Linked DNA regions of Homo sapiens. The protein of the gene in region 1 purifies or fractionates together with the protein of each later gene. This does not show direct contact. Each region holds a gene or a part of one and is shown in the gene's direction. Other genes may lie near its edges.

Region 1 (3,654 bases):
TCAAAAGGCTTATAGTGAATGCCTTCTCAATGAACATGTATGTTTTATGGAATTTTAAAATAATTCCAATTTTTATTTTAGATTCAGGGGCACTTGTGCAAGTTTATGAGATAGTTATATTGTGTAATGCAGAGGTTTGGGGTACAACTGATCCCATCACCCAGGTAGCGAGAGCATAGTACTCAATAGTTTTTCACCTCTTCCCCCTCTACTAGTTTCCAGTGTCTACTGTTGCTATCTTTATGACCATGAGTATTTATGACATTTAAAAATATTGAGAATATATGTATGTATAATTTTTGATCTTCTAATTTCATTTTGGAGAATATTTTCTAAGGAAATGATCAGAAATTCAGATATATTTAAGTACAAGTTCTGTTACTAAGTGATAAAGGAGGATAAGCTCTCAATGATGTTAAAATGTATAATTATAGTAACATCTGGAAACAATTTATTAAAACAATAATAGTCATTATTCAATATTGAGAATATGATTAATAGTTATTTTCTTACACATACTTTTCTGTGCTTCCAAATTGGGCATGTATACTTTTTGAATCTGAAAAAAAAGTTAGAAAAAAGGCAATATTTGAAAAATACTTACACTGGAAGCCGCCATGGTATATATTAATTTTATATTTTTTTGTATTGGTAATATTCTTTCAAGTTACATAATAAAAAATGTATAAGATGAATATTTGTTATATTCCTATTGTCTGATTTTGTAATTCATTTGCTCTGGTTTCTCTTTTTTTTGTAATTCAGGATGATGTGACACCTGTTTTCTAAGTGTTAAAGGAGCAAAAAAACCTCTCTTTAGCCCTTATTCTAGTTCTTTGAATGCTTACTCCAAAAGAATTTTTTTGACCAAAATCTTAGAAATGTAATGAGAAAGAAAGGCTGATATTGGAGTGTTACAGAGTGTATAATAGAAATGCAATAGCAATACACAATCCAGCCATGTCACATTTGCTCCTTCCCTAGTAATGGTTCAAAAACAAGTTTAATATAAAAATTCATGAATATTGATATTCGAGCATAATAGTCCTTGAATGGAGGTAGTGGGAGTGATATGAGATGGAAATACTTTTCTTGATGTAAGCTTGTTTTCTCCAGGAAGAGAAAGATTCGTTTCTCTTTAAATAATTATGTTCTTTTTTTTATTATCTCTATCAATTTGTTTATCATTCTGAGTTGCTAATTACAAATATATTTTTTTCTATAGCTGGAAGCCAACATGTGATGTTTTTCGTAAACATGAAGATTATATGCAGGACCAATTTACTGTTTATCAAGGAACTGTTGAAAAAGACAAGTATAGTACTTATATGAAGTTTATCAATTCTATAAGTTTGTATTATTAGGACATGGTGTGTAAGAATGTCAGTTGAAAAATGTAGACATTTTGTACTCAAGGAGTTTCTTTTTTTTTTTTTGAGATGGAGTCTCGCTCTGTCCCCCAGGCTGGAGTGCAGTGGCATGATCTTGGCTCACTGCAAGCTCTGCCTCCCGGGTTCACGCCATTCTTTTGCCTCAGCCTCCCAAGTAGCTGGGACTACAGGCGCCCGCCACCGCACCCGGCTAATTTTGTGTATTTTTAGTAGAGACGGGGTTTCACCATGTTAGCCAGGATGGTCTCGATCTCCTGACCTCGTGATCTGCCCGCCTCGGCCTTCCAAAGTGCTGGGATTACAGGCATGACCCACCATGCCCAGCCAGGAGTTTTTGTTTTTAAGTAAATGTAGTGTTTTGGACTCCTTGGGTGCAGTGGAACATCTACCTACTTGTTGTAAAGCTCTCTCTAATCCTAGATATATTTAGATATGGCCTTAGATATAAACTGTTTCTCAGTGGCAATTATTATAGCAGAGTCCATCAATTAATGGTCTTTATGAGTGAACTGTTTAGGCAAACATCTCGGGGAATAGTTACCTGTAGAATTAGCTTATAACAAATTTGGGATATTGATTTCTGAATGGTATTTTATATCAAACTTCTGTTTTTTAGACAGCTGATTTAATGGAGTGGTTATATTCTAATAGAGAAACACCAATAATTGTATGAATTTATTTTATTATATGTATAATCACATTGTCTTGGGGATTAAATATAATTAGTGAATGTAATGAAACAAGACAAGAGACTTTGAACACATTATATAGCATAAAAATTTCACCTAATATAAGACATTGAAATGTTTTTATTTTTAATATAATTGGATGAGAACAGTATCTATTTTTATATTGTAACTAAAACGTGCAAAATCTAGAATGCAATACTCTATATATTCAAAGACAAGTCTTAAGAAAAGGTAGGGACTAAAGTTATAGATATAGACTTCATTTTGAAATCATGGAAATACATGAGATTGCCCATGGAAATGTATGGAGCAAAAAGAGGAGAAAGCTGGAGTACGCCATCATCTAGAGGGTAGGCAGAGGGTGGGATCAGTGAAGGAGACTTGTCTTGTCATTTATACATCCTGCTTCATTTAAAAAAGAATTTTAGATGATTTGACTAAATAATCATCTTGAAAGGATAGTGTTTAAAGAAACTAGATTAAAAATCAAGGCTGCAGGGAAGTAAGGAAAATATAGGAAGTTGAAGCCTTTGATGAAGTTAGAAATTCATACTATGTATCCCGCACATTTGTTAGATATAGGCACGAATTAAGCTTTCAAATTCCTAGTAGTCAAGGCATTGTGGAAATATAATCAGTGTGGGATTCATAATATTCATTTAAAAAAACAGGTCAATTGCTTAGGATAAGTAGAGGCTTTTCCTGAGGTTTGAGAGAAATTTCTCCTCTGGGTCCTCTAAAGGGGAAATTGTGCAGTGTGCTTCAGTGACCTCCCCCAGCCCCAAACACAGTATATATAACTGCTTCTTATAGCATCTGTCAATGTAAGTCATGACTATAAAACATTAATTCTTAAAAATGATTCTGTGAGAGGCTAAAGCAAACCAGTTAAAATATGTACTTCTCTAACAGTGTTTGTTATAGAGGACTTCTGTGAGCTAACTGAAGGTATTAAAGTGAAAACAGTTGTCTGTTTCTTTCTTAAACCAGCTACATAGCTTAATTGAATTGATGCTTCAATACCAGGCATTTATAAATGGAAAATAACTCATTTGTTGGTTTCATGGATAATGGAGGAAGTAGAGGCACCAATTACTTGTTTCTCCTAATCTCCCATCCCTGTTCAAGTCATTCATGAAAAACAGTATTGCTGGCTTAGATGAGATAATAATGGCTCTTGTTTAACTATGACTTAGCTATGCTAGGCTCTGCCAGAGTTTCTATATGGAGTATGTTAGAAGAGTGAGCATGAATATACAGTATGAATAGGGTGGATGTGGCATAGTCATCTCACCTGGAACTGGTGACCCAGGCTTAATTTTCTTATAGGTATTTCTTCCCTGGACCATTTTTCCCAAGCGATTAAATAGTAAGTGGGTCTTAATTAGCAAATATGCGTTTAGAGGAATAGGAGCTTGTTTGGGGCTCAACTGCTTTTCCTTGCTAAAGGGGACAGTTTAGTAATATTCAGAAATTAAAACTTTCTTAAGATTCAGACCCGCTGACTAGCACAGGGCTGTTATCCTTACTTTTCTTCTCATGTGTGCAGTTTTTGAAACTTGCTCTTTTCTAAT
Region 2 (3,654 bases), on another chromosome or scaffold:
TTGTCTCTACAAATATAATAATTTAAAAATTAGCCTGATGTGGTGGTGTGCTCCTGTGGTCCCAGCTACTTGGGAAGCTGAGGTGGGAGGATCACTTGAACCTGGGAGGTCAAGGCTGCAGTGAGCCATGATTGTGCCACTGTACTCCATCCTGGGCAACAGAGCAAGACCCCATCTCCAAAAAAAAGGTGATCAACATCATTGATCATCAGAGAAATGCAAATCAAAACTACAATAAAATATCATCTCACCCCAGTTAAAATGGCTTATATCTAATAGACAAGCTACAGCAAATGCTGGTGAGGATATGGAGAAAAGGGAACCCTCATACACTGTTGGTGGGAATGTAAATTAGTACAACCACCATGAAGAATAGTTTGGAGATTCCTCAAAAAACATAAAATAAAAGTACATATGGTCCAGCAATCCCACTACTGGGTGTATACCCAAAAGAAAGGAAATCAGTATATTGAAGAAATAGCTGCACTCCCATGTTAATTGCAGAACTGTTCACAATAGCCAAGATTTGGAAGCAACCTTAGGGTCCATCAACAGATGAATGTACGAAGACAATGTGATACTTACACACAATGAAGTACTGTTCTGCCCCCAAAAAAATAATGAGATACTGTCATTTGTAATAACATGGATGGAACTGGAGATCATTATGTTAAATAAGGCAGGCATGGAAAGACAGACATTGCATGTTTTTACTCATTTGTGGAATCTAAAAATCAAAACAATTGAACTCATGGAGATACAGAGTAGAAGGATGGTTACTAGAGGCTGGGAAGGGTAGTGGGGGGCAGGGGCAGGTGGGGATGGTTAATAGGTACAAAAAAATAGAATTTATAAGACCTAGTATTTGATAACACAACAGGGTAACTATAGTCAATAACAATTTAATTGTACATTTTAAGATAACTAAAAGAGTATAATTGGATTTTTTGTAACACAAAGGATAAATGCTTGAGGGGATGGATACCCCATTCTCCATGATGTGGTTATTATGCATCACATGCCTGTATCAAAATATCTCATGTACCCCATAATATATATACCTACTATGTACTCATAAAAATTAAAAATAATTTTTTGAAAAGGCTTCTTGAGGCTGGGCGCAGTGGCTCATGCCTGTAATCCCAGCATTTTGGGAGGCCGAGACAGGCAAATCGATTGAGCCCAGGAGTTTGAGACCAGCCTGGGCAACATGGCGAAACCCCGTCTCTACAAAAAATACAAAAGTTAGCTGGGCATGGTGGTTCACATCTGTAGCCCCAGCTACTCCGGTTGCTGAGGCGGTAGGATGGCTTGAGCCCAGGAGGCAGAGGTTGCAGTGAGCTGTGATCATGCCGCTGTGCTTCAGCTGTAGGCAGCAGAGCAAGACCCGGTCTCAAAAAGGAAAAAGAAAGTGAAAGACACTTTTTCAAAGGAGGAAATTATTTCTTCCCCAAGTAATACCACATCACTTTATTCAGGTTTGTATTGTAATGATCTATTTATATGCCAGTTTTTTTCCACTAAACTGTGGACTCCTTAATAGCAGGTAAGAATTATATTCTTCCACTTTCAGAGCCCATGGAACTCCTAGTAATTGCTTGATGGGTAAATTCATTTCATAAAACGTTCAAATAATATATTTTATGTAGATTATTGACAAATACAGATTTTGTGACACACATCTTTATAGGTGAAATGGAAAGAGTTCTGGAGTTGAAATAAGAATCAGAGACCTAATCTTTAATCCTTCTTTAATCTTTGGCCAAATATAATTTAGCTTTGTGAATCTATGTTTTCTTATATGTAAATTCTAGTGATGGACTAATAGCTAAAATCCTTTACATCTCTAATATCTTTGAAAATTTGCCTTTCCATAAAGTTGATCATTCATTTATCAATTTAATAGATACCTCTTTTCAGTATTAAGATCATTATATTTAGATTTTTGTATATAAATGTATTAACTTCACTGAAGTTAATAATTGCTGTCTTGGCCAGGCACGGTGGCTCAGGCCTGTAATCCCAGCACTTTGGGAGGCTGAGGCGGGCAGATCACTTGAGGTCAGGAGTTCAAGACCAGCCTGGCCAACATGGCAAAACCCTGTCTGTACTGAAAATGCAAATCTCTCTACTAAAAATAACAAAAATCAGTCAGGCGTGGTAGCACACACCTGTAGTCCCAGCTACTGAGGAGACTGAGGTGGGAGAATCGCTTGAACCCGGCAGCAGAGGTTGCAATCACATCACTGCAGTCCAGCCTGGGCGACAGGGTGAGACCCTGTCTGAAAAAAAAAGAAAAAGAAAATGGCAGCCTGGTCTCGAACCCCTGACCTCAACTGATCCACCCACCTCGGCCTCCCAAAGTGCTGGGATTACAGGCCTGAGTCACCAGGTTTGGCCAATAATTGCTGTCTTATAGCCGCAAGCATGTAACCTTGGATCTACTTGTGAACAGTACAACAGAAAATCAAACTACACTGCAAATTCTTAGAAAAATAAAACCTTTTTTGCTTTCTACTTAGACATAAAGTAGCATAAATTATCTTTTCCCATTTCATTTCGCTATTCTATAAACTGATCAAATTATTAAACCCTATCAGAGAATCACACAGTAGGGTGCAGTTGGGAGAGTTAAATAATGAGTCTTTGTTCATGAATAAAATTAAGCCTCGCATTAAAATGTTTTTGGAGTTATATGCACATATAGGATATATAACGCAATATCACCTTTTGTCCTGCTTTCTTTTTTAGCACAGTGATAGTAGAAATGTCAGAGATCTGGTTTTGCCCATAATTGTTATTGCTCTTAGACCTCTTGAAATGCTTCATTGTATATTTGAAGTTACAAAATATAAAGTTGTACATAGAAAGTATAAATTTATTAAATATTGGAATTCTTCATATTGTATTTACATATTATTCGTATAACTGACATTTGATCTTTAAATTTTTTTCTCTTTTCAGATGTTTAGTGCAAAAGAAGTTGAATTATATGTAACTGAAATAGAAAAGGAAAAGGAAGAAGCAGAGAAGAAAAAATCAAAGAAATCTGTCTAATTCTTAGGATGACCACTGGGAGGTCTTAATGTTTTGTTTTATTGTACTGCCTGAGGTTGTTTAGTGAAATTTTAGAGGAAAACAGTTATTTTGCAGCATTACATGCAGTACTTGTGTGATGTTTTGAGAATGCCAGATCTGTGGCTGTCTTCATTCTATTACATAGTCAAACATAGGTTTATGTGAAGATTTTCTTTGAAAGGGGATTTCAGTAATTGTTGAGAGCAGTCATAATTCCACATAAGCCTGAGACTCTATAATTTGTCCAGTGTCTTACTTACCTTCATATATGCAAATATAATTTTAAAAAATTTTTTAATTAAAAAAATTTAATAATTTGGTGATGTTTGAATATTGACTGTCAGTTAAGGACATAGCTATTCCAAATAAACTAAATATAATATTGAGCTGCATTTCTCAAAGAATGACAAAAGCATCCTTATACTGATGAGTTCTTAAAATTTTGTCAGAGCCTTCTTCATTTTACAATATTTTGTTATTTTTATTTTACCTTTTTCATTTTACAATATTTCGTTATTTTTATTTTACCTTTTTCATTTTACAAGTTGCAATATATTGTTTCGTTCATGGAACAAA

The links. The genes of interacting proteins can lie anywhere in the genome.
Region 2: the proteins of C14orf39 (region 1) and PSMA8 purify together in Homo sapiens (affinity purification with western blotting, with the first as the bait; one study listed by BioGRID). This does not show direct contact.

The regions. Positions count from the first base shown.
Region 1 is NC_000014.9:60,475,961-60,479,614, reverse strand, and holds part of C14orf39 (protein SIX6OS1), read left to right. Parts: intron 1-1,225; coding exon 1,226-1,315; exon of another isoform or gene 1,316-1,320; intron 1,321-3,654. UniProt on the Homo sapiens protein: Meiotic protein that localizes to the central element of the synaptonemal complex and is required for chromosome synapsis during meiotic recombination. Required for the appropriate processing of intermediate recombination nodules before crossover formation.
Region 2 is NC_000018.10:26,189,355-26,193,008, forward strand, and holds part of PSMA8 (proteasome subunit alpha-type 8), read left to right. Parts: intron 1-2,964; coding exon 2,965-3,057; 3' UTR 3,058-3,654. UniProt on the Homo sapiens protein: Component of the spermatoproteasome, a proteasome specifically found in testis that promotes acetylation-dependent degradation of histones, thereby participating actively to the exchange of histones during spermatogenesis.